2 separate regions of the Homo sapiens genome follow, and region 1 is linked to region 2. Evidence: fine-mapped expression QTL. A gene starts in region 2. The other region holds a variant in brackets. All regions are shown on one strand. Distances are between the middles of the regions.

Region 1 (2,894 bases), 29 kb before region 2:
GGCTGGTGTGCCAGGAACAAGTGGGGCCTGGGAATCGGCTTCCTGTAACCCAGTTGCCACCCCCCGCATGGCTGGCCTACCTCCTCGCTGGTGTCACTGGAGGCGGATCTCACCAGGGCTGGCCTGGGGCTCTCCAAGGCTGCCTCTGCCAGGGCTTCACGACTGTTCTCCTGGCAGAGAGGAGAGGGTTGTGGGTTGTCAGAGGATGGGGTGAGGGGGTCCTGAGGAGGGAGGGAGCTCCTGGGGAAGTAGGGGCCTCAGACTGAGAAGAGGTAGCACTGATGCCCTGGCCACCCACCCCTGGTTCCCACCTCCTGAGCCTGCTGGGGCTCCTTTTTACATTCCTTTGGGGATCAGAGGGCAGGCTGGTTCTACTGCTCAGGCTGGAGGGATGGGATGGGAACAGACCATCATGGGATTAGCTGAACCGCTCCCTCTCCCTGGGCCACTCCAATGTGGCTTTTAGGTACTGGCTTGCCTTTTGGGCCAGTGACCAGGGAGGGGCTTCTTGGAATGTGGGGACACATGGGGGCATGGGGAGCCCATGTGGTGCTCCCTGAATCTCATGTGGTCCACCTGACTGTTTGCCAGGATTTGACCCCAGGAATCCTGAAACCCTAACCCTGAAGCAGCAAAGGAGGGCCTTGAAAGAAGAAGGTGGATGGAAAGTTCTAGATCCAAAGATGAGGTGAAAGAAGGTTGAGGGCTGGGTCCAAGGGCCCTCCCCCTTGCCAAGTACCCTGGCAGGAGCTCCTAGGGAAGGGGAACCTTTAAGCAGACCCTGCAGAGTTCCTGCTCTGTGGCCTGACTGAGTCGGCCTGTCCCAGAGCGAAGGCTTTGGCTGGGGCGTCAGCTTGGCACCCAGCCCCTTCCTGGGTTCCTCCATGGCTTCAGCTGGCGCCCAGCCCCACCATCTCTTCCCCGGGCCTCACCCCCTTTCCCTTCTGCCCAGGGAAGGGGGGAGGAGGGGCTTTGTTCTTCCAACCCAGACTAGAAGTAGCAGGGGCCCGGCTGCCCGTGGCCAGACACTGAAGCTCTGTTCTTGGGGGGAAGAATGGCCCCTTCTGTATGGTGGGGAGTTGGAGGCGGGGGCTTGTCACCCAGGATGGCGGGCTGCAGAGGGGCCCAGCCAGCCCGCTCCCTCCTGACAGCTTTGGCCCCAGGCAGAGGCCAAGAGGGTTCTGGCAGTTCTATAGCTTGGAGCTGAAGAAGGAGCTGGAACTGGGGACCCTGGGGTTTTGGCCTTAGTCAGATGGCTATCCTACCAACCACAGCACCTTCTGATCTGTCTCATGCACCCCAAGGATTGAAATCCAAAGAGACAGGGGACCCGCCCTTACCTTCTGTATCTCCCCATTGGTGAAGGGCACAGGCAGGGGACCTAGGCAAAGGACAGAGCAGAGGTGAGTCCAGAACGGGGATGGAATAGAGCGTGGAGAGGAGGTAGGAGTTGGGTTTGGGCAGATTATTAGATCTTGTTCCCTGGGTCAACATCTCAAACTTTTTTGACTACCACCCACCATGAATACATTTGCCTTATTTATTTAAAAAAAA[T/A]TTTTTTTTTATAGAGATGGGGCCTTGCCATGTCATGCAGGATGGTCTCAAACTCCTAGCCCCAAGCAATCCTTCCACCTTGGCCTCCCAAAGTGTTGGGATTACAGGTGTGAGCAAATGTCTGGCCTACGTTTGCCATTTTGATGACTCAGCACACACAAAGATTTTGTGTGATAAAAGTTTCACAAAGCAACACCCTTACTACAGTGTTCTTTGATATTTTTAATTTCATTTCATTAAAAAAAACAAAAAAATGTCTGGGCCAGGCATAGTGGCTCACACCAGTAATCCCAGCACTTTGGGAGGCCGAGGCACCTGGATCACTTGAGGTTAGGAGTTTGAGACCAGCCTGGCCAACATGGTGAAACCCCGTCTCTACTAAAAAAGACAAAAAGAAAATTAGCTGGGCATGGTGGCACACGCCTGTAATCCTAGCTACTTGGGAGGCTGAGGTGGGAAAATTGTTTGAACCCAGAAGGTGGAGGTTGCAGTGAGCCGAGATCACGCCACTACACTCCAGCCTGGGCAACACAGCAAGACTCTGGCAAAACAAAACAAAACAAAACAAAACAAAAAAAACAAACCAAAAAACCTGCTGGTCTCTATCTACTAAATTGATCTTATGAGGCACTGATGGGTCACAAGGTGTTTAAAAAATGTATTGTCTCAGATGGGGATGAAATTCGAGGATGGCTGCCTAATTCCTACCTGGGAATTCCTACCTGGGAACTCCTACGTGGGAAGCTTGTTAAAGTACAGATTCCTGGACCTTGGCAGCACAGATTCTGGTTTAGTGGGCAGGCCTAAGAATCAACATTTTCCAAACGCTTCCCAGGTGATGATGATGACACCAAAATTGGAACCACACCCCAGACTATAGTTAGTACCTGCCTCAACTGAAAGAGAAAATAGTCTGGGCTCGGTGGCTCATGACTGGGACCCCAGCACTTTGGGAGACTGTGGCAGGCGGATCACCTGAGGTCAGGAGTTCAAGACCAGCCTGGCCAACATGGCGAAACCCTATCCCTACTAAAAATACAAAAATTAGCCGGGCATGGTGGCAGGCGCCTGTAATCCCAGCTACTCAGGAGGCTGAGGCAGGAGAATTGCTTGAACCCAGGAGGTGGAGGTTGCAGTGAGCCAAGATTGTGCCATTGCACTCTAGCCTGGGTGACAGAGACTGTGTCCGGAAAAAAAAAAAAAAAGGCCAGGCGCGGTGGCTCACACTTGTAATCGCAGTACTTTGGGAGGCCGAGGTGGGCGGATCACAAGGTCAAGAGATCGAGACCATCCTGGCCAACATAGTGAAACCCCATCTCTACTAAAAATATAAAAATTTG
Region 2 (2,894 bases):
GAGTCTGTTAATGGCTAGGGCCCATCATCGTGGTGAATCACCTAAGACCCAGGGAAGAGTGGCCCAGGGTGGGAACTGTCTGCCTGTGGGCCACATCACCCCTAGTCTGGTCCAAGGAGCTCCTGCCAGGCTTTCTCAGAGGGTCCTGGACTCACTCCCCTGGGGCAGGCCCGGGGAGGCTGGGGACCAACTCTCCGGCCAATGCCGCTTGGCCAGGGAACAGATGAAGGGGTGGGGGATAGGAGCTTTCTGGAGCCTGCACTCCTCCCTGGCTCCTGGGTCCCAGCCCTGGAGCAGGAAGGAGGGAGGGAGGGCCAGTCTTTGTGTACTTTACAGATCACAGCTGCCTTGAGCAAACGATGCCAGCTACCCACCCAGCTCGGTGATTCCACCAAACACAAACAGCTGCCTAGCCTGGCCACCTCCTAGGCAAACAACCCAGCTGGTTTGCAGGGCAACAAGGTCAGGCAGTCCCCCTCAGCCTGGGGCCTGGCCAACAGCAGCTCCTCCTCTCCGAGGGTGCAGGGGCCCATTTCCTGCCACAAGCCCACACAGGACGCCTATCTCAACGGCTCTGGGCGGATGACTTGCAGGGTGGCTTCCCCCGAAACACTGGGGTGGAGGCTGAGGCTCCCAGCAAGGGTGAGCCCTGGTGTCGGGGAGGAAACCGAGGCCCAGAGAGAGGCAGGTCTCCTTCAAGGCCATGCAGCGGAATCCAGGACAGCCCTCACTCCATCCCCAACCCTGCAGAGGAAGAGTGGAAGCTCTAGGCTCCCTCAGCAGTTCTTTCAGTTTCTGGTACCCGCTCACTCCAAGGACACAGATGGAAGGCGACAGACCAGTCCACTGCTGTCCCTACCTGTTTCCATACAGGACACCCCTGTAGAGGGAGCAAGCCCCAGAGAGCAGCCCTGGAGCTCTCTCAAGTGCGGGATGCGAAAGACCAACCACTGAAATCTTTCTCAGGTTCGAAAAATTCCCAAGTGACCTGCAGGCCGGCTGGCAACATCCTTCTGGGAGGAGCGGCTTCCGACTGCAGGGAGGAAGGTGGGAGGCAGTGCCTCCAGCGGGTGGAATGGGAGGGGAGCAGCTGGGGGACATCAGGCCTTAAACCTGGATGTCAGATCTCAACTAAGAGCTTAGCTCGGAAAATGGCATTAACGCCAGTTCCTCTGCCAGCAGGGGACGTCCTCTCCGAGTCTCCGTTCGGTCCCCATCTCCCAGCCCTTCCCAGCCTGAGCCCCGAGAGTTGCGCGCTTAACCCTCACCAAGAAGCATGGGCTCCCGGGGGCTCATATTTGCCAGAGTGTGGCAGAAGAGAACTGAGTTGGGGCCGGCGGGGGGATCACTCAGTTTTTGCGATCTTCCGCGACCCGCCCCCACCAAGCCAGCAGAGACACCTAGAGCTTGGGACGGCCCCAGAGGCTGTGTCCTGACCCTCTCTCCCTCCCTCCTCTGGGAGACGCAGCTGCCTGGGGGAAGGGCTGAGTCCAACCCAGACGCAGCCAGGAAGGGGCTAGCGCCGAGGAGGGCGGGGGTCTCACGGAAGAGGCCCACCCACCTTGCCCGTGAGGTCGTAGCTCGGACTGCAGGGCGGGGAGCGCTCGGGGGCCTCGCCATCCCGGGTGGCAACGGCGCCTGGCGTGCCCGTCATGTCCCTGGACGAGAGGTGAGCAGTGCCGGCCCGCAGGCGAAGGAGAGCGCAGGAACGGCCCCACCCCCGCCCCGCCCACTCCTCCCCTCCCTCGACCGGGACCCCTCAGGCTCCTCCCTCCGTCCCGTCGCCCCCTCGACGACACCGGCTCGGACCTTGCTGTTCCCTGAGGGCACGCAGAGCCGCAGGGTCTGCGTGAAGGGGCGGGCAGCCTCCCTGAGCAACACCGGCTCGGCTCCGTGCGCTTCGGACATGAGCCACATCCAGCCCCGGGACCGGTCCCCTGTGGTCGCTTGCTTGCCCCTGGGGGAGCGGGCCGCGGGGACCCCGTCTGCTGCGGAAGAGTTCCCGTAGTCGCTGCGCACCGCGACAGCAGGCGGCGCCCGAGCCCCGGGCCGTGGGCTGTCCCCAGGTGGCGAGGCGGGGAGCTGGGGACCCCTGGGCTGCGCCTCCGCCGATGGCCCCGAGACACTTCCTCATCTGTTAAGTCACCCGGCCCGAGCTCATCTGAATATAGTTTTGTTTACCAACCCGTACTCGCCTTGCAGCACATGTACGCTGCGGTGTTTTGGGGCCTCTGCCTGGTGCGGGGACTTTGACCCTTTAGTATGGATCACCTCTCATTTCCCCCGGCCTGTTGGTTGTGCCCAGAATGTCCCACCAGGGGAGAGCTTTCGCAAGAGGGCTGCGCAGCACACATCTCCCAGTGGACCGCTCCTGAAGGCGGGGCCGGCCTTATTAACCCATGACACTCACCCTGGCCCCGAGGAGGAGCCAAATAAATTCATGAAGTCGTAGATCATTTTGAGCAGAGCTGCCAGGATATCCCAGGCACCCGGCAGCTCCTGGTGACAGAGAGTGGGGAGTGCAGCTGGGGTTGCCGGTAGCAGAGCTCAGGGGCTCTGTGGCCTGGGCCGACCTTTCAATTACCCCCATCTCCACATTCTATAAGCAGCTTCAAGTTACCAAGGAACAGGGCGGGTGCATTACAGCGGGACGGTTTGAGGGATGTGTAGGGAGGGGAGAGCTGGAGAGGGGTACCTGCACTTTTTTTTTTTTTCAGACAGAGTCTCACTCTGTCGCCCAGCCTGGAGTGCAGTGGTGCGATCTCGCCTCACTGCAACCTTTGCTTCCCGGGTTCAAGCTATACTCCCGCCTCAGTCTCCCGGAGTAGCTGGGATTACAGGTGCGCGACATCAGGCCCGGCTATTTTTTCTTTTTGTATTTTTAGTAGAGACGG

What was found. PIP is the estimated chance that this variant, and not a neighbour inherited with it, causes the effect. A credible set is the group of variants that fine-mapping cannot tell apart.
Region 1: its variant is the best candidate, but not a certain one, in a credible set for the expression of RAB37 in whole blood (TOPMed, PIP 0.57).

What each region holds. Positions count from the first base shown.
Region 1 is chr17:74,765,423-74,768,316 of GRCh38, reverse strand. It overlaps NHERF1 (NHERF family PDZ scaffold protein 1), which reads right to left. Exons shown (of 6, transcript NM_004252.5): 4 at 1,341-1,381; 5 at 81-170. Among named protein-coding and RNA genes, the nearest start is that of NAT9, 9.5 kb to the left of the region's middle. The variant T/A (reference allele first, on the strand shown) is at 1,555.
Region 2 is chr17:74,736,033-74,738,926 of GRCh38, reverse strand. RAB37 (RAB37, member RAS oncogene family) reads right to left here and starts at 1,671. Exons shown (of 9, transcript NM_001006638.3): 1 at 1,562-1,671. The coding sequence starts at 1,654. LOC124904057 (a long non-coding RNA gene) reads left to right here and starts at 1,588. Exons shown (of 3, transcript XR_007065905.1): 1 at 1,588-1,669. RefSeq lists enhancers at 1-591, 956-1,045, 1,316-2,039, 2,426-2,485 and silencers at 1,516-1,715, 1,916-1,965, 2,016-2,185.